7 linked regions of the Homo sapiens genome follow. The protein of the gene in region 4 interacts with the protein of the main gene of each other region in a pairwise test. Each region holds a gene or a part of one and is shown on either strand. Other genes may lie near its edges.

What was found.
Region 1: the proteins of TCHP (region 4) and NME7 interact in binary tests that used the Homo sapiens proteins (3 or more experiments, as listed by UniProt).
Region 2: the proteins of TCHP (region 4) and ATPAF2 interact in binary tests that used the Homo sapiens proteins (3 or more experiments, as listed by UniProt).
Region 3: the proteins of TCHP (region 4) and DYDC1 interact in binary tests that used the Homo sapiens proteins (3 or more experiments, as listed by UniProt).
Region 5: the proteins of TCHP (region 4) and EIF4ENIF1 interact in binary tests that used the Homo sapiens proteins (3 or more experiments, as listed by UniProt).
Region 6: the proteins of TCHP (region 4) and HMG20A interact in binary tests that used the Homo sapiens proteins (3 or more experiments, as listed by UniProt).
Region 7: the proteins of TCHP (region 4) and NUP54 interact in binary tests that used the Homo sapiens proteins (3 or more experiments, as listed by UniProt).

The regions. Positions count from the first base shown.
Region 1 is NC_000001.11:169,137,298-169,140,797, forward strand, and holds part of NME7 (nucleoside diphosphate kinase homolog 7), read right to left. Parts: intron 1-3,500. UniProt on the Homo sapiens protein: Possesses an intrinsic kinase activity. Displays 3'-5' exonuclease activity with a preference for single-stranded DNA. Does not seem to have nucleoside diphosphate kinase activity.
Region 2 is NC_000017.11:18,019,845-18,022,168, reverse strand, and holds part of ATPAF2 (ATP synthase mitochondrial F1 complex assembly factor 2), read left to right. Parts: intron 1-311; coding exon 312-424; intron 425-505; exon of another isoform or gene 506-747; intron 748-930; coding exon 931-1,046; intron 1,047-1,170; coding exon of another isoform or gene 1,171-1,209; exon of another isoform or gene 1,210-1,529; intron 1,530-2,324. UniProt on the Homo sapiens protein: Plays a role in the assembly of the F1 component of the mitochondrial ATP synthase (ATPase).
Region 3 is NC_000010.11:80,339,756-80,343,255, forward strand, and holds part of DYDC1 (DPY30 domain-containing protein 1), read right to left. Parts: intron 2,607-3,500; coding exon 2,514-2,606; intron 1-2,513. UniProt on the Homo sapiens protein: Functions as part of axonemal radial spoke complexes that play an important part in the motility of sperm and cilia. Plays a crucial role during acrosome biogenesis.
Region 4 is NC_000012.12:109,913,774-109,917,273, forward strand, and holds part of TCHP (trichoplein keratin filament-binding protein), read left to right. Parts: intron 1-668; coding exon 669-854; intron 855-1,629; coding exon 1,630-1,773; intron 1,774-2,817; coding exon 2,818-2,850; 3' UTR 2,851-3,500. UniProt on the Homo sapiens protein: Tumor suppressor which has the ability to inhibit cell growth and be pro-apoptotic during cell stress. Inhibits cell growth in bladder and prostate cancer cells by a down-regulation of HSPB1 by inhibiting its phosphorylation.
Region 5 is NC_000022.11:31,462,343-31,465,842, reverse strand, and holds part of EIF4ENIF1 (eukaryotic translation initiation factor 4E transporter), read left to right. Parts: intron 1-1,875; coding exon 1,876-2,162; intron 2,163-2,709; coding exon 2,710-2,911; intron 2,912-3,500. UniProt on the Homo sapiens protein: EIF4E-binding protein that regulates translation and stability of mRNAs in processing bodies (P-bodies). Plays a key role in P-bodies to coordinate the storage of translationally inactive mRNAs in the cytoplasm and prevent their degradation.
Region 6 is NC_000015.10:77,465,888-77,469,387, forward strand, and holds part of HMG20A (high mobility group protein 20A), read left to right. Parts: intron 1-1,207; coding exon 1,208-1,420; intron 1,421-3,500. UniProt on the Homo sapiens protein: Plays a role in neuronal differentiation as chromatin-associated protein. Acts as inhibitor of HMG20B. Overcomes the repressive effects of the neuronal silencer REST and induces the activation of neuronal-specific genes.
Region 7 is NC_000004.12:76,138,398-76,141,897, forward strand, and holds part of NUP54 (nucleoporin p54), read right to left. Parts: intron 1-3,500. UniProt on the Homo sapiens protein: Component of the nuclear pore complex, a complex required for the trafficking across the nuclear membrane.

The sequences.
Region 1 (3,500 bases), on a different chromosome or scaffold from region 4:
AAAAAAGGCCTGACATTTTTATTCTGCACCAGTTCTGCTTAAAGCCAAGGGCGTCTACTGTAGGGTTGCTTTAGCATGGTTGTCCTAATGACTGAATGAAAAATGTGGTTGAAAAGGCTGCTTTTAAAATAAGCAATGAACAGATCGATGGTTGAGAGTTGGGCGGGTTGGGGAAGGTGCAGGGTGAGGCAGATTATGGAAGGTGTGAGCTGGCAGACTCAGCGGGCATGGAACAGAGGCCCTGTGATGGCGCTCTGCAGCCTTGGGCAGGGGTGAGGAGGGGAGGGCTTATGCTGTGGGGATGGCAAGAGGCAGCTACCAGTAGGGGATGCACATGTGAGCCTTGAATGAACCTTTGCTGGGCTCCCTTTCCCTTTTTGTCTTCCCTCTCCAAGGCACTACTTACTTTTCAGCTCCCAAAATATGGGGCTCAGAAGTGGTCAATAGTGAGGAAAGGAGTGGTAACTGAAAGAAGTCTAGGGTTCTCTGGGTGGAAAGACTCAGAGGAAACATTCAAACCTTGATAGAAAGGAGATGAAAAATCCATCCTTGCCTATTGTTGTAGCTATAGAACCCCAAAAGCCCTTGGGCTGCAGATGTACCCCCCACAAATCTATTTATGGTCTAATTAAAAAATTAAGTTGAACTTAATCATAACAGTGTCTTCTTCAGATATGCTTATCTTCTCCGTAGGTTTAGTTGACATATTTGAAATGTTTTAAGACTAAATGAGCCGGGTGCAGTGGCTCATGCCTGTAATCCCAGCACTTTGGGAGGCCTAGGCGGGTGGATCACCTGAGGTCAGGAGTTTGAGACCAGCCTGGCCAACATGGCGAAACCTCGTTTCTACTAAAAATACAAAAATTAGCTGTGCGTGGTACTGCATGCTTGTAATCCCAGCTACTAGGGAGGCTGAGGCAGGAGAATTGCTTGAACCCCGGGGGTGGAGGTTGCAGTGAGCTGAGATTGTGCCACTGCACTCCAACCTGGGTGACAGGGCGAGACTCCTCAAAAAAATAAATAAATAAAAATAAAAAAAAGACTAAATGAAAATGTCACATTAAAATGACTATACATTTTTCTAATTCTGGAAACCCAATGTCTTCAGAGTTCTCTTTTAAAAACCTCAAGGCCAGGTGCAGTGGCTCACACCTGTAATCCCAGCATTTTGGGAGGCCAAGGCAGGAGGATCACTTGAGCCCAGGAGTTCGAAACTAGCCTGGGCAACATAGAAAGACTCTGTCTCTACAAAAAAATTAACAACAAAAAAAATTAGCTGGGTGTGGTGGTGCACACCTGTAGTCCCAGCCGCTTGGGAGGCTGAGGTGAGGGGATCACTTGAGCCTGGGAAGTCGAGGATGTAATGAGCTAAGATCATGCCAGTGCACTCCAGCCTGGGTGACAGAGCAAGACCCACTCTCTAAAATATATATAGATATGTATATATGAAATTAAAAACTCAAAAGATAAAAACCTCTTGATTCCTCTGACTGCCACCCACTAAGGAGAAAATTCCCTTTTAAAAGCTGGAAGGTAATTATATCTCAGCCCAGAGTAGAGTGGTGCTGACTTTTCTCTTTATGGAAAATATTTACCTTCTTTGCTAATATAACTAAAGGCTACAACTTTCCATAAATTCATCATAAAATTGTGTTTCATGACTCATCATTATCTAGCCCCTTTTGCCTCGAAGATGGTTTTGGTTGTAACTGGTATCTCCCCAGTCTCTCAAAATATGAACAGATGTTTGTTGCTTCTGTTCCCTTCTCCTCCCTACCTGTAATGATTAAAAAGGTATTCTCTGAGAGTTTTCTCATCTCAGTGTGAACTTAGTCATAACAGTAACTTCTTAGTCATAACAGTATCTTCTTAGTCATAACAGTATCTTCTTCAGATATGCTTATCGGTCAATTTTTCCATATTTATATTTTAAATTTTACTCTTAAAAAATGAAGTTCTTGCTACATACCAAATGCTTTAACAGATTATTGTGTGTAATCCTTACAACCACCTTTATGACATTGGTATTATTAGTCCCATTTTCAGTTCATGAGACTCAAGTTTTTTGAGCTAATAATTTGCCTAAAGACATATCACTTTGTTAAATGTCTCTGGTTCAGCCTGTGCTGGTTCAGAGCTCACACTAGGGATGTAGCCTGGCTGTTGGAATTTGACTCCTAGCCCTGCCATCTCCTGGCCAGGTAACCTTGAGCAAGTTACTTAACTTCTTTGTTCCTCAGATTCCACATCTATAATGTAACAATACCTACTATGTAGGTTTGTTGTGAAGTTTAAATGAGGAATTATATGGAAGACATTTAAAATAGTGTCCAGCATAAATATTGCATAATAAATATCACTATTATTGGTTTCCAAATATTCTCCTAATGTTATGGCCCATCCTGCTGTATGTCACTGAACCCAAGTATCTCTGAATAACTCCATCAAGTGCTGACAGCCAGAACTGTCAATTCCAGCTTATCAGATGATAGCATACATAATTATTCAAGTCATGAACAGCAGAGGCAGACTAAGAAAACTTTGAAAACTAAGATAGTAAACAGACGTGAGAACCAAATGCAATATGTGATCCCTGACTGGATCCTGAACCAGAAACTATTTTTCTTCTTTTGCCACAGAAGACATTTGTGGGTAAAAAATGAAGGTCTGTACCTTGATAATAGTATCGTATTAATGTTAACTTCTTGATTCGCAATCACTTTCTGTGGTGACTGTAGATAATATCAGTGTTTTTAGGAAATATACACTGAAGTATTGAGAGATAAAGGGGAATTACATCTATAACATACTGTTAAATATTATAAATAATTAAATTCATATGTACAGAAAGACAGAAGAAAGGATGATTAACATGGTAAAATATTAACATTTGGCAAATATAGGTAAAGGGCTTGTGGAAAGTATTTTTTTAAACTTTTCTATAAGTCTGAAATTATTTCAAAATGGAATGATAAAAATATTAATCAGTAGAAAGAACAGAAAGAGTACTAGATTTGGAGTTGGAAGAATTGAGTTTTATTCTAGCCACTATTTCCTAGTGCTCTTAGGCAAATCATTTAGACTCTCTGAGCCTGTCTCCTAATCTAAAAATTGAAGATAATAAAACCTACCTCATTGGATTTAGTGGGCATGTAAGTTTCTGGGTGAATTTATAAAGTTGTAGCACATTATACAAATAATACTTTTTTAAAAAGGACATATGGCCCCATGTTCCCACTCTGAAACTAGTAGCCCAGGATGGGCTCTGCTACAAATCAGCTACAGTAAAGCTTCAGGGATGGGTTTTCTCAGTTATGAATGCCAAGCAAGCAGAGGGGAAAAACTCAGGTGACCTTGACACTTCCTCTTAGAAATTCATTTTGTGGCTCCCAGAGAAGAAAAGATTTTGACAGGGAACAGTCTATCCTTAAAAAAAAAAAAAAAAGATTTCAAATAAAAGAAATTGTAGATATAAAGACCAGTTCTCAAGATTGGTGATT
Region 2 (2,324 bases), on a different chromosome or scaffold from region 4:
TTTTGATGGAGATTCCAGGTGAATGAATGAGCATTTCAGGCAGCTGCGTATAACCGAGCCCTAGCTCACATGACTCAGGAACCATCCCTTCATTCAGCACAGTTTCTTGGTCCTCCAAGTTTGCTTTTGAGGGACAGAAAATCAGGTCGGGAGGCCACTGACCATGGTGGCAGTTGCTCCTGTAGTCAAGACTAGCTCCTTGGCCAATGCACACACATGCTCTGAAGCTTAGGCCTTTGTTTCTAGTCAAAAGGTGGGCTGCTCTTGGGCTACAGCATGACAGAGACATGCCGAAGCCCTTTTCCTTTCAGATACGGCGTGGAGATCAGCTCCTCCACCAGCATAATGGGACCCAGCATCCCTGCCAAAACTCGGGAGGTGCTCGTCAGCCACCTGGCATCTTACAACACATGGGCTTTACAAGGCATGTATGGAGTTTCTTGTGGGCTTGGCAGGTGGCTGTGAAGGCCATCAGTGTCTGAAGCCTGTACTTGCCCCTCCCCAGGTCCTGTGAGTGGAGAGGCACAGAGTGTTCTGGGCTAGCTGAGTGTGGAGGCTGGGTGGCTCTGATGCTAGCCAATCACTCTACGCTCTAGGCTCACACCTTTCCACCTTCGACTTCGCCAGCAGAAGTCTTGAGTTCAATCTCATTGCCCTGGCTTGGGTCACATGTCCATCCATGAACCAATCACTAGACTGGGTGCGGAAAGCTCTGATTTGCCAAGTTCGGGTCATGTGTCTCACTAGGTAAGAGCAGAGGAGGATCACCCCCAGGGAAGACCAGAGTGCTCTTTCAGAAGAGTGGGACAATCGCTGGATGGCTCTTTGCACCACTCACTCCTGTTCTCTGCTAGGGCTGCTGGGACTCACAAGGGGTAGGTTGTGGCAGCTGCCCTGTTTTGGGTTCTGACTTGGCTTGTGTCCCTGCAGGGATTGAGTTTGTAGCTGCCCAGCTCAAGTCCATGGTGCTAACCTTGGGCCTGATTGACCTGCGCCTGACAGTGGAGCAGGCCGTGCTGCTGTCACGCCTGGAGGAGGAGTACCAGGTGAGGAGCAGCACCTCAGGTCCCGCCTCCCCCTTCCTAGTTCAGACTCACTTTGGGGGAGCAGCTAACCCATCTGAAATATAGTTATGCATACTTGGCTTTTATTACTTTTATGTACACGCAGAAATCAAAATCAAGGACCAGCAGAAGTATTGTCAAGTAGGCCTGGCATGGTGGTTCACACCTGTAATCCCAGCACTTTGGGTGGCTGAGGAGGATGGATCATTTGAGGTCAGGAGTTTGAGACCAGCCTGGGCAACATGGCAAAACCCTCTCTCTACAAAAATACAAAAATTAGCACCTGTAGTCTCAGCTACTTGGGAAGCTGACGTGGGAGGATTGCTTGAACCTGGGAGGTGGAGGTTGTAGTGAGCCAGGATTGTGCCACTGCATTCTAGCCTGGGTGACAGAGTGAGACCCTGTCTCAAAAAAAAAAAAAAAAAAGGTAAGATAATAACAATAAAAAAATAACAGTAAGTGCTACCGCTGTGTTCCTGCATTGTATCCATCTCACCTCCTCTCAGCAGCCTGGGCAGGTAGGAGCTGTGGTTATCTCTGTTTTACACAGAAGGAAATGGAGGTGCAAGGTTGCACCTCTGGAAAATGTGCCAGCTGGGGTTTGAAGCCAGGTCTGGTGATTTTAGGGCCAAGGCCGTCAGGCCTCACTCTGCACAAGGAGGTTCACGGGTGGATAAAGACCATCTGGGCTTGATAAAGCCTGCAGAACAGGCCCTGCCAAGATGACTGAGAACCCGTTTGTGCTCCTTCATCAGCTGAGCCTTCATACCCTGACATTTTATCTGGCTGGCAGAGGAGCATAGGGGTAGCTGCTGTTTGTATACAAGTTTTGATTTAGTGGGCTCAGAATTAAGGTTTTGCCACAGTATGGTTTGCATTTTTTAACTCTGAAAATTATAGCCATCTTTGCAGTCTTTTTATTGTTATTCCACCAACCTCAGAAGGTTAATTGCTATTATGAATTGGTCCCTAATATGGTAAAAACAAACAAACAAAAAAACACAAAACTTTTTGTGATGTATTTCCCTAGTTCTTGTAGTCTTCTGCTCAGAAAAATGCCAGGGAAAAAACTATTTTTGTATAACAAAGGAGGCCCGCTACTATTCTCTGGATGTCAGAACTGATTACATAGGAAGGGGGTGACTTGTAGGGCTGGTGGGAAGCCAGTCTGGGCTCTGCTTCTGACTATGGGACCCAAGCCAGGCCATCATTCTCTGAACTTTGGTTTCGATCCTCTACAAACAGAGGAATAACCTGAAT
Region 3 (3,500 bases), on a different chromosome or scaffold from region 4:
TGAGCTGATTCGTTTTGGCTGCTAGAAGACCAGTGATTTCTTGATCATACATATGGTCACCCTAATGATAGGGACATAAACAGCACTGTTTTCCCAAGACCACTCCATTTTCCTGGTAACTTCTTATCCAGCATCCACAAGGCTATATGGGGAACATCCATATTCTTATAGGACTATGCTCCCCTGCCACAGAGATGGATATTTGACACAAACTAAGCCAGTCAGAATCCTTCTCCAAGATTCTTTTCTTAACTGAAACTAAAACAAGGCATCCATTCCTCTTAGATGGTAGAAGCCACAACATTCTAAGCCTCAGAAGCCGTTAAGGCCCATGTTCCCTACCCATGTGCAGCAAAGCAGCCCATAGTGAAAGAGCGAAACTAATAACCAGGGAGCAGCAGAGGGGAGAGCCCTGGTAGCATCTGATTCTCTTGCTCCCAAAGTCTGAAAGGCCCAGTGATACCAGAGTCCTTCACAGTTTATGTGTTAAACCCTTCCTTCAACCCAGAATCCTTCTAGCAAACTTCCCTTTGCACATGATAGTTTACATTGCGAGTCTGCAGCCATAAGAAGGCCAAGGGAAAGCACATGAGTGGACTCATCTCTGAGCAATGGGCGAGGGAGTGGTACTTTGCAGGGGACTACCTATGCTATGGTGAGGGATGATAAGCCTATAGAAATAGGAATTACTAAAGTTATTCTGGCAGTGGTCACACAAGCTGATGATGTCTGGAGATAGTAAAATAACATGAGTGTGGCTCTCTGGAGCCATAAAATAGAGACCAATCCTTCCTATGGACTTTGAAGCACTTTAATGTAGCTATCAGGTCACTTTGATTAAAAATACTTTAAATTCCTTTATTTTGATCACTGCCTTCTTGATATGTTCCTGTATTTTCTCTTTCAGTTTAGATCCGTGAATCTTTTTCAAAATTTCTTTAATTTTTAATTTTTACTGATATAAATAGCTGTACATATTTACGATGTACATGTGATATTTTGATACAAGCATACAATATGTAATGATCAAATCAGGATATTTGAGATATCCATCACCTTAAACATTATTTCTTTGTGAATCTTAAAGAGAAAGGGGCTGCTTGTGTATGTGTGCATACAGGCATATCCCTGTGCTCACACTACACTCAGACTAAGACCGCATCAGCATCTGTATTTTTTAAAACTATGTATAGGGCTTTTATCCTTTTAAAAAAAATCTCACTTTTTGATTTAATTCACCATTCACACTTTTTAAATATTGCTTTAATAAATGATTCTCTCATCTAAGCATCAATAAACATAATGAACATTGTCTATAAAACCTGCTTCTTTTTTCAGCTTTAATTATGGAATAAAAAGGGGGAGAAACATTTGATTAAGAGATAGTAGCTATAAACTCAGTCATCTAGAATATTGGTCTATATGACTCATAGCTTTTGGATGCAGGAAATATGGGTCAAACTAGAGACCTGACATGATTGTATCATGTCAGCTTGGACAACATGGCAAAACCCCATCTCTACTAAAAATACAAAAAATTAGCCAAGCATGGTTGTGCGTGCCTGTAATCCCAGCTACTCGGGAGGCTGAGGCTCGAGAATTGCTTGAACCCGGGAGGTGGAGGTTGCAGTGAGCCGAGATCACGCCACTGCACTCCAGCCTGGGTGACAGAGTGAGACTCTGTCTCAAAAAAAAAAAAAAAAAAAAAAGAAAGAAAGAAAAAAGTTACTGCATAGTTTATTTTAATGAAAGTCCATGTATGAACATATTTTAAAATGTAAATTCTTGTTGTTAATACATTAACATAAAGACATATACTACTGCCTCCGAGATTGGAATACCCTCAATATTCAACATCAGCTACTGTAACTAGGAACAGCTAACTCCTGACTAAAATGTTGAGGGTATCACTATTAGAGAACCCTACTGCTCACAGAGAAGTTTCACAAACATGATTGTATTTGATTGTATAAGAATCCAGTGAGACGGCCAGGGGCGCTGGCTCATGCCTGTAATCCCAGCACTTTGGGAGGCCAAGGTGGGTGGATCACCTGAGGTCAGGAGTTCGAGACCAACCTGACCAACATGGAGAAACCCTGTCTCTACCAAAAATACAAAATCAGCCGGGCGTGGTGGTGCGTGCCTGTAATTCCAGCTACTCGGGAGGCTGAGGCAGGAGAATCACTTGAACCTGGGAGGCCGAGGTTGCAGTGAACCGAGATTGTGCCATTGCACTTCAGCCTGGGCAACAAGAATGAGACTCCGTCTCAAAAAAAAAAAAAAAAAAAGGAACCAGTGAGACATTGCTAATAGTATTATACTGCTAGCTCTAGTTTTGAAACAGGTAAACTGAGACTGAAAAAGGTTATGAGACTTGTTTAGCTTACACAGCTAGTATGTGGCATGTCTTCAGACTACAAATCCCATGGTCCTTCTGCTAACAGCTGAAATAAACAGTTTGAAGATTCTAGAGAGTTTTAAATAAAACTGACATTTATAAAACTTCAAATTACCTTGCCTAATTGTTCTTGAGCTCTCTGTAGTTCTTGTATTCTCTGCCTCTCCTTTTCTTGCATTTCCAACTCTAGCTGCAATGCCAGCTGTTGCTGAATATTCAGAAATATGTCATATTACAGTTAGATTAATTGCAAGATAATTAAGTTTATACCCACCTTCATTTCAGAAACTTACAATACATGGTCACATCCAACTAATACTTTAGTTTCTACAAATGCTTCCTGAAGCATAAAATTTTTAAAAAAGATTTTAATCTTCCTTAATTGCAAATTATAGAAAGCACAATTTGTACAAAATTATTTTCCCTTTTCTTCTTAAAGTAACAAATGAGATTGCAACAATTTTCCAGATAAATTTCTTTAAGCATAGATGGGTCTTCAAATAGCCACACACTGGTTGTGGAAGAGTGGGTGAGAAACTCTTCAGAATATCATCTGATGGCTCATGCCTGTAATCCCAGCACTTTGAGAAGCCAAGGTAGGCAGATCATCTGAGGTCAGGAGTTTGAGACCAGACTGGCCAACATGGTGAAACCCTGTCTCTACTAAAAATACAAAAATTAGCTGGGCAGGGTGGCACATGCCTGTAATCTCAGCTACTCGGGAGGCTGAGGCAGGAGAATCGCTTGAACCTGGGAGGTGGAGGTTGCAGTGAGCCGAGATTGTGCCATTGCATTCCAGCCTAGGCAACAGAGTAAGACTCCCTCTCAAAAAAAAAAAAAAAAAAGAAAAGAAGAAAAAAGAATATCATCTGAAATCATTACTAACCAACAATATATTTGCTCCCAACTCAGCATATCTGTCACACTAGAATAGGGTTCAGCAATAAAGCCTGTGGGCCAAAGCCAACCCACCTCCTGTTTTTTATAGCTTACAAAGAAAGAATGGCTTTTACATTTTTAAATAGAAAAAATTTAAAAGAAATAATATTTCATGACATAGGAAAACGGTATGAAATGTAAATTTCAGCATCCTTAAAGCTTT
Region 4 (3,500 bases):
GGAATCCACAGGAAATTGGGTCGTGATTGGTGATGTTTTGCTCTTGTAAATACCAAGAATTCTCCAGTGCCTTTTGATTTTCCTCATTTAAATTTCCCTCCTGATGGCGGCCACTTTCTGTTCCCCCCAGCCCTGCAGCCTAACTGTTGAGAGTGTCAGGTGGTTTTCTGCTCCTGACTGTGGCCTGGGCTGGAGTTCAGATGTCACACGGCTCTGGGGCCAGGTCTCAAACACAGCAGGTTCAAAAGGTTAGAGGACCACCCCAGCTCCACCTCTGGTCATCTGTGTGGCTTGTGGCTCTCTTGTTTTTGGAACCCGCTGATAGGAAGGAGACTCACCTTGTTGCTCCAAGGTTTCTCTGGCCCCGGGGAGACAGCTCCATCCCCATCTCCTTTGATTTCTTTGGCACTCAGCTGTCTCTCCATAGTACACAGTCTGGATACATTTTGTGTGTCTTGGGTTGCGAGGGAAACATTTCTTGTATACTGGCAAGCGTGGCCGACATCGTGAGAGCAAATCCTGTCATCTGGCTCTGCCTCTGCGTACCTGGGCCTGAGGCCCAAGGATGAGGCTGGGCCTTGCTGTGGCTGCAGCCTGTCCAAGGCTTGTAGAACCAGGATCTGTTAGGGTCAACCTCAAAGCTGCCCTTTTCTTTCTGCTGAGGTTAGGTTCTGACAGGGAGACAACAGCAAATACAAGAGAAGATTGAGCAGAACCGACGGGCACAAGAGGAATCCCTGAAACACAGGGAGCAACTTATTCGAAATCTTGAGGAGGTGAGAGAGTTGGCTCGTCGCGAGAAAGAGGAGAGTGAAAAGCTGAAATCGGCCAGGAAGCAGGAGCTGGAAGCCCAGGTAGGGCTGAGCCCAAGGGCGGGAGGCACCGGGCCTGCCAGGTTCTCTGCATCATCATGGGACAGGGTTCAGAGCCGCTGGACTGCCTGGCAGGGCTTGCGCACGTTTGAGAGCACGGTGCTCCCGTTTCCATCCCAGCTGCAGTCCTCATCCTCTTGACTGTGGCTTCTTTCCCTCCACATCCTCCATGTCGTGTGGGTGAGGCCGGTACTGCTGTCTGTTCTCTTTACTCTGTCTGCTTCTGCAAGCAGTTGGCTTACCGGGGGCCATAGATCTCTCTTCATTTCAGTCCCTGATACATAAGACAGAACAGTCCTCCAAACACCTGGCCACAGGCCGAGCTTTTCACGAGGTACACGCCACGCATATGTATAGCCTCTCCAGCTTTCCATGAGGTACACGCCACGCATACAGCCTCTCCAGCTTTCTACGAGGTACATGCCATGCATACAGCCTCTCCAGCTTTCTACCAGGTACACACAATGCATACAGCCTCTCCAGCTTTCCACGAGGTACACGCCACGCATACAGCCTCTCCAGCTTTCCACGAGGTAAGCGCCACGCATACAGCCTCTCCAGCTTTCTATGAGGTACACACCATGCATACAGCCTTTCAAGTCCCGCATGCTCCCTTCCGTTCCTTGGCACGTGCATTGCTGTTGCTCAGCTGGATTCTCCAGTCTGGGTAGGGCCGCAGGCTTACCTTCCTCATCAGAGGCAGGGCTCTGCCCTGTGGGCCTTGTCTTGGGGTGGTGACTTTGCTCTTGGCACTCAGGTTGCAGAGCGCCGGCTGCAGGCATGGGAAGCAGACCAGCAGGAGGAGGAGGAAGAGGAGGAGGCCCGGCGGGTCGAGCAGCTCTCAGATGCCCTGCTGCAGCAGGAGGCGGAGACTATGGCTGAGCAGGGCTACCGGCCTAAGGTAGGAAGTCTGCCAGGATATAGGCCAACACCGGCAAGACAGACTCTGCCCGGCCCCTGCTCCCCTGGGCCTGCTCATCGCCCCGCGCCGGGGTCTGCTCTCCGGCCGTCCGGGTTATTCCTTGTTTCTCTTCTCTTGTATTTCTCTCTTCCCTGACCAGCAGGGAGCCCTGACACAGGGGCTGTTCCAGTCCTTGGTTGGGCCTCAAACCTTGAAGTGATTTTGCTCTGGCCTTGCCTACTAAGCTGCATGCCTGTCCACCCTCTTTGGTCAATCTAAGAAGAGCTGTGGCCACAGCTGCTGAGAGGGGTCAGAGCAGTAGATCTAGGCCTCAACTGTTGAGACAGTGAAGCCCGATGAACAAGAGACCAGTCCTCCTCCTCACCTCCCCTCCCTCCCTCCTGTGGGTGTCCTCTTCCTCCCCTCCCTCCCGTGTGTGTATCTGTTTCTCTGCCTCTCAGTGTCTTTGTTCCCGGACCTGTCTGCACAGCACCATGGGGAGCACAGAGAAGCAAATGCTGCCTTCCCTGCCCTGAGGAAGCTGATGACTGAAGCACCTCCACTGCTGGCTTGTCCCCTCTGCCCTCCTTTACCTAGGGCCACCCTGGCCACCCGGTGCCTAGAGTGCATTCCCCAGGACACATGCTGCAGAATGAGGGCTGGCTCCCTTGTGGTCAGATGACACTGGGAAACTGAGTGAAACATAATTAGAGCAGGTGCTGCGTTTGCCATAGGCCACTCGCCCTCAAACACTGACTGTCACAGTCACAGGGAACAGCATTTCCTAAACCCACTTGGCCGTGGATCAGTGAGAGTGTCAGGGTCAGGGTTTCACAGATCATATGTGAAAGTGTTTCTTAGGGCTAGTACTCAAAACCAAAAAGATATCAAGTGCCTCATTTATGGCTTAGGGTCAGATTTTTTCAGCTGGAAATGAAACAGCCATTTATATTGTTCTTTTAGCTTGTAGTTAAAACAAGGTTAATTCCTCATGCTGCAGATACTGCTGATCTGATCACTCTTATGTTTTCTTTCTTTTCTCAGCCTTACGGACATCCAAAAATTGCTTGGAACTGACTTCATGGGTACCATAAGTACAGAGAACAAGGGATGCTGAGGCTTCTGATCCCAGCCGCCAGGCAGTTTTACAGGGCTCTGTTAACAGTAAGTGCCCGGGGCACTGTCAGATGGCTCAGCAGTGCCTGCTCAGGTTCATCATTGAAACATCCCAGTGTTTGGCCAGACATTAAGGTGTCGTGAGAGTCCCTTTCATGCCTTTCTTACCCAAGCAAGGGTCTTTGATGGGCACGTGTTTACAGCGCTGCTGCATAGTCTTGTAATATATTAACAGTCACATCAACTGAAGGTCAATACTAAGAGCCACAGGTTGTACCTGTGATGGGGCGTGTGGTTTCCTGTTGTCTCACCTTTAATTGTCAACCTCCAGTGTTGACTCTAGAAATATGAGGAAAGCTTTTCAGTTTTTAAAATTGCCATTTAAATTTAGTCTATTAAAAACAAACCTAGAGGTCTTGGTGCAGTTGATTTCAGAGTTTATTAATTTAGTGGTCCCAAAAGTATTACATCTTTTATATTCTGGAAGAAAAGAACTGTGAACAAATTAGAACCCCGGAACACTCTGACGTCCATGGACGCATTCCAGAAAAGTGGCAAGAGATGAGTCTTTCCTCCTCCAGGAAGCATTTTGGTAGAATTTCCATAGAGCA
Region 5 (3,500 bases), on a different chromosome or scaffold from region 4:
TTATTTTCATTGCTTAATAGTATTCCATTGTATGGATTTAGCAGTTGATCCGTTTATCTGTTGATGTACATTTGGGTTGTTTCCAGTTTTTGACTGTTAAATAACCAAAGCTGCAATGAACATTCATGTACAAGTCTCTGGACATAAGCTTTCTTTTCTCTTGGGTAAAAACCTAGGATTAAAATGGCTGGGTTGTATAGCAGATGTATGTTTAACCTTCTGGGAAATTGCCAAACTGTTTTCCAAAGTAGTTGTACCATTTTACGTTTCCACCAGTGGTGTATGAGAGTTGCACTTGCTCCAACATCCTCATCTGCACTTGGAATGGTCATTTAAATTTTAGCCATTGTAATAGGCGTGTAGTAGTATCACATGGTTTAATTTGCATTTCCCTAATGACTAATTATGTTGAGTATCTTTTCATATGCTTATTTGCCTTCCACATAACCTCTTTGGTGAAGTGTCTGTTCAAACCATTTGTCTATTTTTCAATTGTGTTGGTTTTTTTTTTTTTTTTTTGAGACAGAGTCTGGCTCTTGGTGCCCAGGCTACAGTGCAGTGGTGCAGTCTCAGCTCACTGCAACCTCCACTTCCCAGGTTTAAGCGATTCTCCTGCCTCAGCCTCCCAAGTAGCTGGGATTACAGGTGCCTACCACCACGCCTGGCTAATTTTGTATTTTTAGTAGAGACGAGGTTTCACCATGTTGGTCAGGCTAGTCTCGAACTCCTAACCTCAGGTGATCCACCTACCTCAGCCTCCCAAAGTGCTGGGATTACAGGCGTGAGCCACTGGGTTGGTTTATTAAGAGATTTTATGTGTTCTGAATTTAAGTCCTTTATCAGAAAAATGCTTTGAAATATTTTGTCTCAGTCTGTGGCTTGTCTTTGCATTCTCTAAACAGTGTCTTTCAAAGAGTAGAAGTTTTAAATTTTGATCAAGCCCAGTCTATCAGTGTTTTTTAAATGGATCATGCTTTTGGTGTCATGCCTAAGAAAACTTTGCCTAACCCAGTGCCACAAGGATTTCCTCCTATATTTTGTTCTAGAAATTTTTAGTTTTAGGTTTTACATTTAGATCTGTGATCCATTTTGAATTAATTTTTGTATATATCTGTTTATATATATATATATATATATATATATTTTTTTTTTTTTTTTTTTTTTTTTGAGACTGAATCTTAGTCTTTTGCCCAGGCTACAGTGTAGCGGGGTGACTTCTGCTACTGCAACCTCTGCCTCCAGGTTCAAGCGATTCTCCTGCCTCAGCCTCCCAAGTAACTGGGATTACAGGCACCTGCCACAATGCCTGGCTAATTTTTGTAGTTTTAGTAGAGACGGGGTTTCACCATCTTGGCCAGGCTGGTCTTGAACTCCTAACCTCGTGATCCACCTGCCTTGACGTCCCAAAGTACTGGATTATAGGCGTGAGCCACCATGCCCGGCCCCAAATATAGATTTAAGTTCATTTCTTTGTCTGTGGATATCTAACCGTTCAACACCATTTTGTTGAAGAGACACTTTAACTTTTTAAGCAGTTATTTTTTCAAATACGCCTGCTGTAGTTTATTAGTTGACAAAACATTTGCTAATAATTCTTAGATAAGGATTTGGTCAAAATAAAGGCACTGCAAAGACTAATCATGGAAAATTATTTATCGTGACGTACTTCTATTGCTGCAAAGAGGAAGGCCAATGTCTCAGCCTTATTTAAATACATAATGTACATGTTACCCTGAATCTGCTGATAAGCCCAATTTTAGTGGTGACTCTCTTCCAACCATCCCCTTCCTCCCATCAGTCATGGACATACTATCTAAAAAAGAAGAAAACACCCTTGTTGGTTTGTTTAACTTTGTCTTTCCCACGTCCTTCCAGATCCACGAGAGCGTGTGAAAGAAGATGACTTAGATGTTGTTCTCAGCCCTCAGAGACGGAGCTTTGGAGGGGGCTGCCACGTGACAGCCGCTGTTAGCTCCCGGCGCTCAGGAAGTCCATTAGAGAAAGATAGTGATGGGCTTCGTCTGCTTGGTGGACGTAGGATTGGCAGTGGGAGGATAATCTCTGCCCGGACCTTTGAGAAGGATCACCGTCTTAGCGATAAGGACCTGCGGGACTTGAGAGACAGAGACCGAGAGAGGGACTTCAAGGACAAGCGTTTCAGGGTTTGTCTTTTTTTTTTTTTTTTTTTTTTAAATTGAGACGGAGTTTCGCTCTTGTTGCCCAGGCTGGAGTGCAATGGCACGATCTTGACTCACTGCTGCCTCAGCCCAGTATCTGGGATTATAGGCACGCACCACCATACCCGGCTAACTTTTTATATTTTTAGTAGAGACGGGGTTTCTCCATGTTAGTCAGGCTGGTCTCTCAAGCTCCCAACCTTAGGTGATCGGCCTGCCTCGGCCTCCCAAAGTGCTGGGATTACAGGCGTGAGCCACCACACCCGACCTGGGTTTGTCTTCTAGATTCTTTGGTAGTTCATGTGCTTGGGGACTTGATATTCACTTTTTTTATACCAGGTTACTTTGAGAACAGGCATGAACACAGCCTGCTCTTAAACCAGTCAGGGAGGAAGGGGTGGGGGTGGTGATGGGCCTCAGGTATACAGCATCATATCTTCCTTTCACTATTGAACATTACAACGAAGACCTTGACTGAAGTAGAAATGGCTTGACTAGAAATTTTTTAATCTTGCTTTATGTACTTTTCCAGAGAGAGTTTGGAGATAGTAAGCGTGTCTTTGGTGAGCGTAGAAGAAATGATTCTTACACAGAAGAAGAACCAGAGTGGTTCTCTGCTGGACCCACAAGTCAGTCTGAAACCATCGAACTGACTGGCTTTGATGATAAGATACTAGAAGAAGATCACAAAGGGAGAAAAAGAACAAGGCGACGGACAGCCTCTGTGAAGGAAGGTCAGTTCAAACTTTGGGAGGGAAGTTCGCTGTTTTAAAATGAGATGTAGGCTGGGCGTGGTGGCTCACACCTGTAATCCCAACACTTTGGGAGGCCGAGGTGGGCGGATCACCTGAGGTCAGGAGTTTGAGACCAGCCTGGCCAACATGGTGAAACCCCGTCTCCACAAAAATTCAAAAATTAGTGGGGTGTGGTGGCTGGTGCCTGTAGTCCCAGCTACTCGGGAGGCTGAGGCACAAGAATTGCTTGAACCTGGGAGGCAGAGGTTGCAGTGAGCTATCACACCACTGCACTCCAGCCTGGGTGACAGAGCAAGACTGTCTCAAAAATAAAATAGAGATGTGATTATCACTGGCTAATTGTACACTTAGGAATGGGCACCAGATGTATAGGAAATGGCAAGTTTTTCATGATGCATCCTGATTTTGAAATCTTTTTTTTTTTTTGAGACGGAGTCTCGCTCAGTTGCCCGGGCTGGAGTGCAGTGGCACCATCTCAGCTCACTGCAGCCTCCATTTCCTTGGTTCAAGCGATTCTTCCCTGCCTCAGCCTCCCGAGTAGCTGGGATTACAGGTGCCTGCCATGACG
Region 6 (3,500 bases), on a different chromosome or scaffold from region 4:
TTAACTGATACGGCTGTATTTGTAAAATTATGAAGTAAAAATATTATGTACCTTACATCTTATTTAAAGGGCCAAGAAGAAAGGCTGTGGTGAAACATCAGTGGTACCTCAGTCCTTTTCATTTCTTTAGTTTTTTTCAGAGGTGATTCAATCTTTTGATTTACCTGGTAACTCAACATATAAAGACCTCTGACTATAAAATGTACATCTAGGCCGGGTGCAGTGGATCACGCCTATAATCCCAGCACTTTGGGAGGCTGAGGCTGGTGGATCACCTGAGGTCAGGAGTTCGAGACCAGCCTGATCAACATGGCAAAACCCCATCTCTACTGAAAATACAAAAATTAGCTGGGTGTGGTGGCACATGCCTGTAATCCCAGCTACTTGGAAGACTAAGGCAGGAGAATCACTTGAACCTGGGAGGCGGAGGTTGCGGTGAGCCGAGATAGCGCCATTGCACTACAGCCTGGGCAAGAAGAGCAAAACTCTACCTCAAAAAAAAAATTAAAATAAAATGTACATCTAAAGGAACAAATTGTCAAGCCAAAGAGCTCGTCTTCATTTCAGATATATTATACTTACTAAAATTTTTCTGAGACTTAGATATTAATTTAGTATCTATCTGCTATGCTATGCTATCTGCTATCTGCTATGGGAAATAAGCTAGTCTTTGAAAGTTATCAATGAGCAACTCCCATTGTGAGTTATTTTTAATTTCTGCTACAACTTGTTTCTTCTTTTGCCTGGTGCACGTGACACCATCTTACTCTAATCTGACAATGTCTGCCTCCCTGCCACAATGCTGCATGTGCTGCTGTATTTCCCATTTGGATACTCTCCTGTCAGGAATCAGGACCTGACAGTTGTCTGTGGGACAGTCATATGCATATGAAGGTCAAAGCTGAGTGATCATGGCACCTCTTATTCTCATACATTGAGATTAGCACAAAAATAGCCCTTTAGTGTAACATTTTGTAGTGTGATACATAAAAGAGGTTGCAAGTGAAGCATCTGGAGTTCCTCAAAAATTGCATTGCTGTCATTTGTATATTACCTACAACAGATGTGGAGAGCTTTGAATATCCAGGGCCAAATTGCAACTCTTAATCCTGTTTTGTTTGTTGTTGTTTGTTTTTGTTGTTGTTGGGTTATTTTGGGAGATGGTTGTTGTTTGGTTTTTGGTTTTTTATTTTGTTTTGTTTTGTAGCAACGAAGTAAACGAGGAGGTTGGTCCAAAGGAAGAAAGAGGAAGAAACCTCTTCGAGACAGCAATGCACCCAAATCCCCCCTTACAGGATATGTTCGGTTCATGAATGAGCGTCGAGAACAACTTCGAGCAAAGAGACCAGAAGTCCCATTTCCAGAAATCACAAGGATGTTAGGCAATGAATGGAGTAAACTGCCTCCTGAGGAAAAACAGGTAATTGTTCCTATTCCTGACTCTTTGTTTGGTTTTGATTATATCTCAGAAATAACTTATATAAGAAAAGCAAAGAGGATGGACAGTTGATTCTGCAGTTTTGTCACAGTGCCTAGGAGACCAGAATAGCAGGGTCCATCATAGCAATTTTCTCTAGCCTAGTGATTTTTAAACTATTTGCTAGAGGGGTGTGAGCAGGGAAGGAGTCTAGGACTCCCCTCAACCAAAGCAACACCACTTTTTATACGCTGAGTTCACATAAGATTGTTTTAAGTGGTTCAGTATTAAGAAATCTGTCAATAAAATGTATTCCACTGAGTTAAATGAAAAGTCGTGAATTAAATGAGAAAAAGTCACTTGACACAATTCTGCAGTTCACATAAGATTTTTAAGAAAAAATGTTACTGCTTTAATACTTTTTTTAACTAGAGTTCTGGCAAATTAACCTACTATTGAAAATAAAGCAAGAACAACTTGAATTCTTTCTCCTCTAAGACAGAAACTAACCTGATGGGCAAACTGAAATGAATCCGTTCATTAGAGAGATTTGAAAGGAATTAAGGACAAGATAGCCATGAGCTGGTTGAAGTACCACTAAAGCTGAGCAGTGGTCATGGTTGTGGGAGCTGCTTTGGGTTAAAAGTTCCCAGCATTCCCAGCATCTGAAAGATATCTGTATTTCTTTTACGTCTTAAACTCTTTTATGACTTACACTTTTTAAAAAGGATTCCAGACACACTAAAACCAAATGGAGAAATACTCTCCTGGGAATTAATTGAATTCAGAAATTTTCAAAGAGATCAGATTCAGTTGCAACTTTTGAAGCTCTGTGTTTGTGGTAGCAAGCTAGTAGAAAGCAGTGAATATCATCCATTGTTTTGGCGCTACTGTATAAAAGGATAGTGGGCTGTACATACTATGCTATTCTTTTCTTTTTTTTCTTTATTTTAAAATTAATATGTGCTCATTATTCTCTTTTCAGAGAATACAGAAATGTATAAACAAAAATGTAAAAATAACAGTGCTTATTTCTTGGGATAACCACTATTACGTAGGACAAAGGTTTTGTGTTTGTTTTTGTTTTTTTAACTTTTTTTGGAAATAATTTCAAATACACAAAAAGTTACAAACATAAAAATAATACAAAGAACATCCCAACACTCTTTACCCAGATTCACCTATTGTTAACACATTTTATTCCATTTCTCCATTTGCATATGCACTTATATGCTCAGTCTTTCTTATACTTTTGCATGCTCAGTCTTTCTCTCTCTCTCTCTCTCTCTCTGTCACACACACACACACACACACACACACACTTGCATGTGTACACCCAGACACACACAAAATTTTGTTTTAATCATGTGAGGATAAATTATATACATTGTAGCCCTTTACCCCCAGGATATTTCAGTGTGTATGTCAAAGAATATTTTCTTATATAACCATAGTGTAGTCATCAATTTCATAATTTTTCATTAACAGTGCTTTAATCTGTCATCTATATGTTGACTGAATGTCATTTCTTTATAACATTTTTCCCTTCCAAAACAGGTTCCAGTCTAGGGTCAGGTTTTGTGTTTAGTAGTCAAGTTTCTTTAGCTTAAACTGGGATATTTCCATAATCTTTCTTTTTCTTTTATAACATTGATATTTTTTTAAAATACAGTTCCCTTCTGCTTCCCCCGCTGCTTTTACCTTTAACAGAACATTGCTCATTGTGTATTTTTCAGATGTTTCCTTGTGATTAGATTGAGGTTGCGCATTCTTGGTGGGATTACTTGCATAGGTGGTGGTGTGTTCTCAATATGTCACATATGCAGGCACACAATGTCCTTTTGTTTCTCACTAGTAATGTTAATTTTGCTTACCTGGTACATTATTTAAATTCTCCTTTGTCATTAATAAGTAATCTATGGGGAGACGATTTAAGAACATACAAACAGCCTGTTTTACATCAACATTTTCCCCTAGATTTAGCATCCATTGATTATTTTTGCCTGATTTAATCTTTATCATTATGGTTACAACGTGATGATTTTTCCAACTCCAGCACTCCCTTTACATTTACCAGGTAGCC
Region 7 (3,500 bases), on a different chromosome or scaffold from region 4:
TCTCCCTTAAATTTCCTGACAACACAGTCTCTCTTGGTTTTTTATAAACACATTCATTCATTCATTCACCATTAATTCATACAACAAATATTTACTGAGTACCTACTAAGTGCTCAGAGCCAAATACTAAAGATACAGTGGTAAACAAGGTAGACAAGGTGCATTAAACAAACTGAACACATCAAACAAATATTAACAATTGTGATAAGTCCTTCAGAGAAGTACAGAGGTTCTGGGAGTACTAAATAAGGGAGCTGATCAAGCCTGAGAGAGGGGTCAAGAGAAGACAGTTCCATTAGCACTTCAGTTAGGGCCTAAAGGAAGGAGTCAGCTAAGCCATGGGGTAGAGGTAAAGGCCAACAGTATGTGTAACATCTCTGTAGAGACAGAGAGAGGAAGATGAGTGGACAAAAGCAATAAGGAGGACTAACAATGAGGTAGGAAAAAACTAGACTGGAGTGTCACAGAAGTTAAGGTCTCCCACTGGCCAAATGCAACAACTGAAACATATTTATTAAAGCCCATGCATTCAAAATGGTAATTTTATAAAGTAAAGATCAAATTTTTTTTAAATCCTAACTCCTTGGATACCATTAGAAATAATGAGACCGCCAACTCCTTTTTACAAAAATTGTCCATTAAAAAGAAAAAAAATTATCTTGCCTTTACTATACAAACTGTACATCAGGGTGATCAAGCAGTCTTGGAGGATGAAGAAAAAGTTCCTTTTACAGAAGAAATTTCAGTGTGATAGGGAGGAAATTAGAAAATCACCATTTTGCAACTCCTAATAAGATAACTGATTGAGGCAATGATCATCAAGGAATGAAACCATTAGGTTAAAGTAGTAAGATAAAGATACGCTGTCACCATCTGAACCTACTGATCAATCTTAGCATCACCAAAAGTGAGATAGCCTCTCAACGTGACGTGATATGAAGCACACAGCACCACTTGCAAAATGTTCTTACCAAAAAAGCAAACGTCAAGTCCCTAAAGCAAACTTTATTTACCACAATTATGAGAGATAAAGTTAAATAATATTACAAGGAAGCAGAAGAAAAATACAGAATGGGGGGCATTTAACAAGACAACTGGAAAATTCATGAGGGAAAAAACAGAATGGGGAATTCTCTACACTAAAAAGAACTTAAGGGACATGACAAGAAAATGAATGTGTGGTCCTTGTTTGGATCATGATTCAAACAAACCAAATAAGAAAACGCTTTTGAGACAAATAGGGAACTCTGGTTATAGATGGGGTATTAGATAGTACCAAGGAATTATTGTGGGTTGGAATGAGGTACACATTTTTAAAGAGAGAAGTATAGTAAAGTAAGCATGAAATGACACGCTTGGGATTTGCTCTCAAATACATCAGTGATTTAAAAAAAGGAAAAAGGAGATGGACAATAACAAGTTCTGACTTTTGATGACTCCAGCTGGTAGGGTTCACATCACTTCTTTTTTTCTTTGTTAGCATTTTTCATAAAGAACAGTAAGTGTTCACTGGATTTACTGAGATGATTAATGACCTTAACTTATTTGATAAAATAAAGAAAACAGAAACCAGATTGGCGAATAGTTTGTAAAGGGGAGGAGAGTGGTAGCTGAAGTGAAATGTGGGATTAAAGTAGTTTTGTTGTTGTTGTTATTACTGTTTCAAGAAAAAATAAACTTTGAGTTACTTAAATGTGGATGAGAAGGTGAAGACTGGGGAACGGAGTACAGCTAGAATAATCAACAGCACATGCGCCCTGAAAAGGCAGGAGGTTATAAGATCCTGAGTCAGGTAAAAAGAGGAAAAGGTGGATAGAGGGAGAAAAAAAATAGATTTGGTGGAGGGAAGTTGAAGGAATTGCAATAAGGGATTTTATTTTCTCTTTGGTTTTTTTTTTTTTTTTTTGAGACAGAGTCTTGCTCTGTCACCCAGGCTGGAGTCCAGTGGTGCGATCTCAGCTCACTGCAACCTCTGCCTATGGGGTTCAAGCAATTCTCATGTCTCAGCCTCCCGAGTAACTGGGACTACAGGTGTGCACTACCACGCCCATCTAATTTTTGTATTTTTAGTGGAGATGGGTTTCACCATGTTGGCCAGGCTGGTCTCTGACCTCAGGTGATCCGCCCACCTCAGCCTCCCAAAGTGCTGGGATTACAGATGTGAGCCACTGCGCTCAGCCCTTTTTTGTCTTGGAAGTAGCAGTCAAGGCCATCTGCTAAAAGTAAGAACAGATAAATTTGAGATTTGAAGAGAATAAAGGTTTAAAATTACTGCTATAGAAAGCAGGAGAATAAGTTGAAAGTAGAAATTTCACAGGATTACCAGGCAACATTGAGACCTGAGGTTGGTGATCAAGAATTTAGAGAGGTATTATCCCCTCTTCCATAATGTGTGATCTTTCTCAAGCAATATCTACACAGACAGTTGGGCTTACAAAGGCTTGGGGTTTTTTCAGGCAAATGTGACACAAAAACAAGGAAGTTTAGCATATTGGCAAGAGATATAGAAATGGAAGGCCATGGAATCTAAGCTAGTTAGAGTAGTGAAGACAGAAAGAGCTAACAGAGCAGAAAGTATCAGTTGTCGAAAGATCCAACAGTCTTCTGAAGGATCCTCGATAATCCATGCTTTGGCTTGGAAAGGACTTCTGGCGGTTGTCACAAAGTCAAATGTGACTTTTCCCCTTGATTCACAGGTATTGCCAACTGAGATAGGAATAGCTGTGATTAGTAAAAGGGAGCTAATAAGTATGAGGAATACATGGACGGGCATCTCTATACTGAGATAGGACAAGCAGTGGTCCTAACAATGCTGCTCGCTAATTTATGGTCAAAATCCTACTTGGCTTGGGGATAGGAGATGGCAGCATTTAAGTGTTAGTGTTTCTAAGAGTTTTGTTCTAGTACTCTCCTCTTACTCTGGAATCAGGTCTCCTAAATTACATCATCCATATCTACCACTTTAAATACTACTTACGTTCTGATGGCTTTCATAAATATATACAACTACCCAAGGGACACCTCAAACTCATTATCTACCCACAAACATCTGCTCTTGCTTTAGTATTCTGGATCTTAGTGAAGAGCAAGGGATCCTTCAGTTACGCCACCCAGAAGCCCAAGATACCTTTATCCAGTCATTCGCTTTTATTGATTCTACAAGTTAAATCTCTCTCAAATTCACATCCTGTTTTTTCTCTCCATTCTTAACTGTCACTGCCTTAATTCAGGTCTTCACTATATCTTGCTCAGATTTTGGCAACAGCTTCACCAGATCTCTGCCTCCATTCCAACCCACCTATAATCTATCTTTGTATTTCTCTAAGAGATACTTCTAAAAATCTGATTATTTTCCTGTCTACTTAATCCTACAACAGTTTAGAATTGCTTAAAGGACAGCTCCTTAGTAAAACATATAAGGCACGCTAATAATCCAATTCATATCTATCTCTCCAACTCTCACTACTGACCCTGAGGTCATTTATGCATTAAAAAAACTG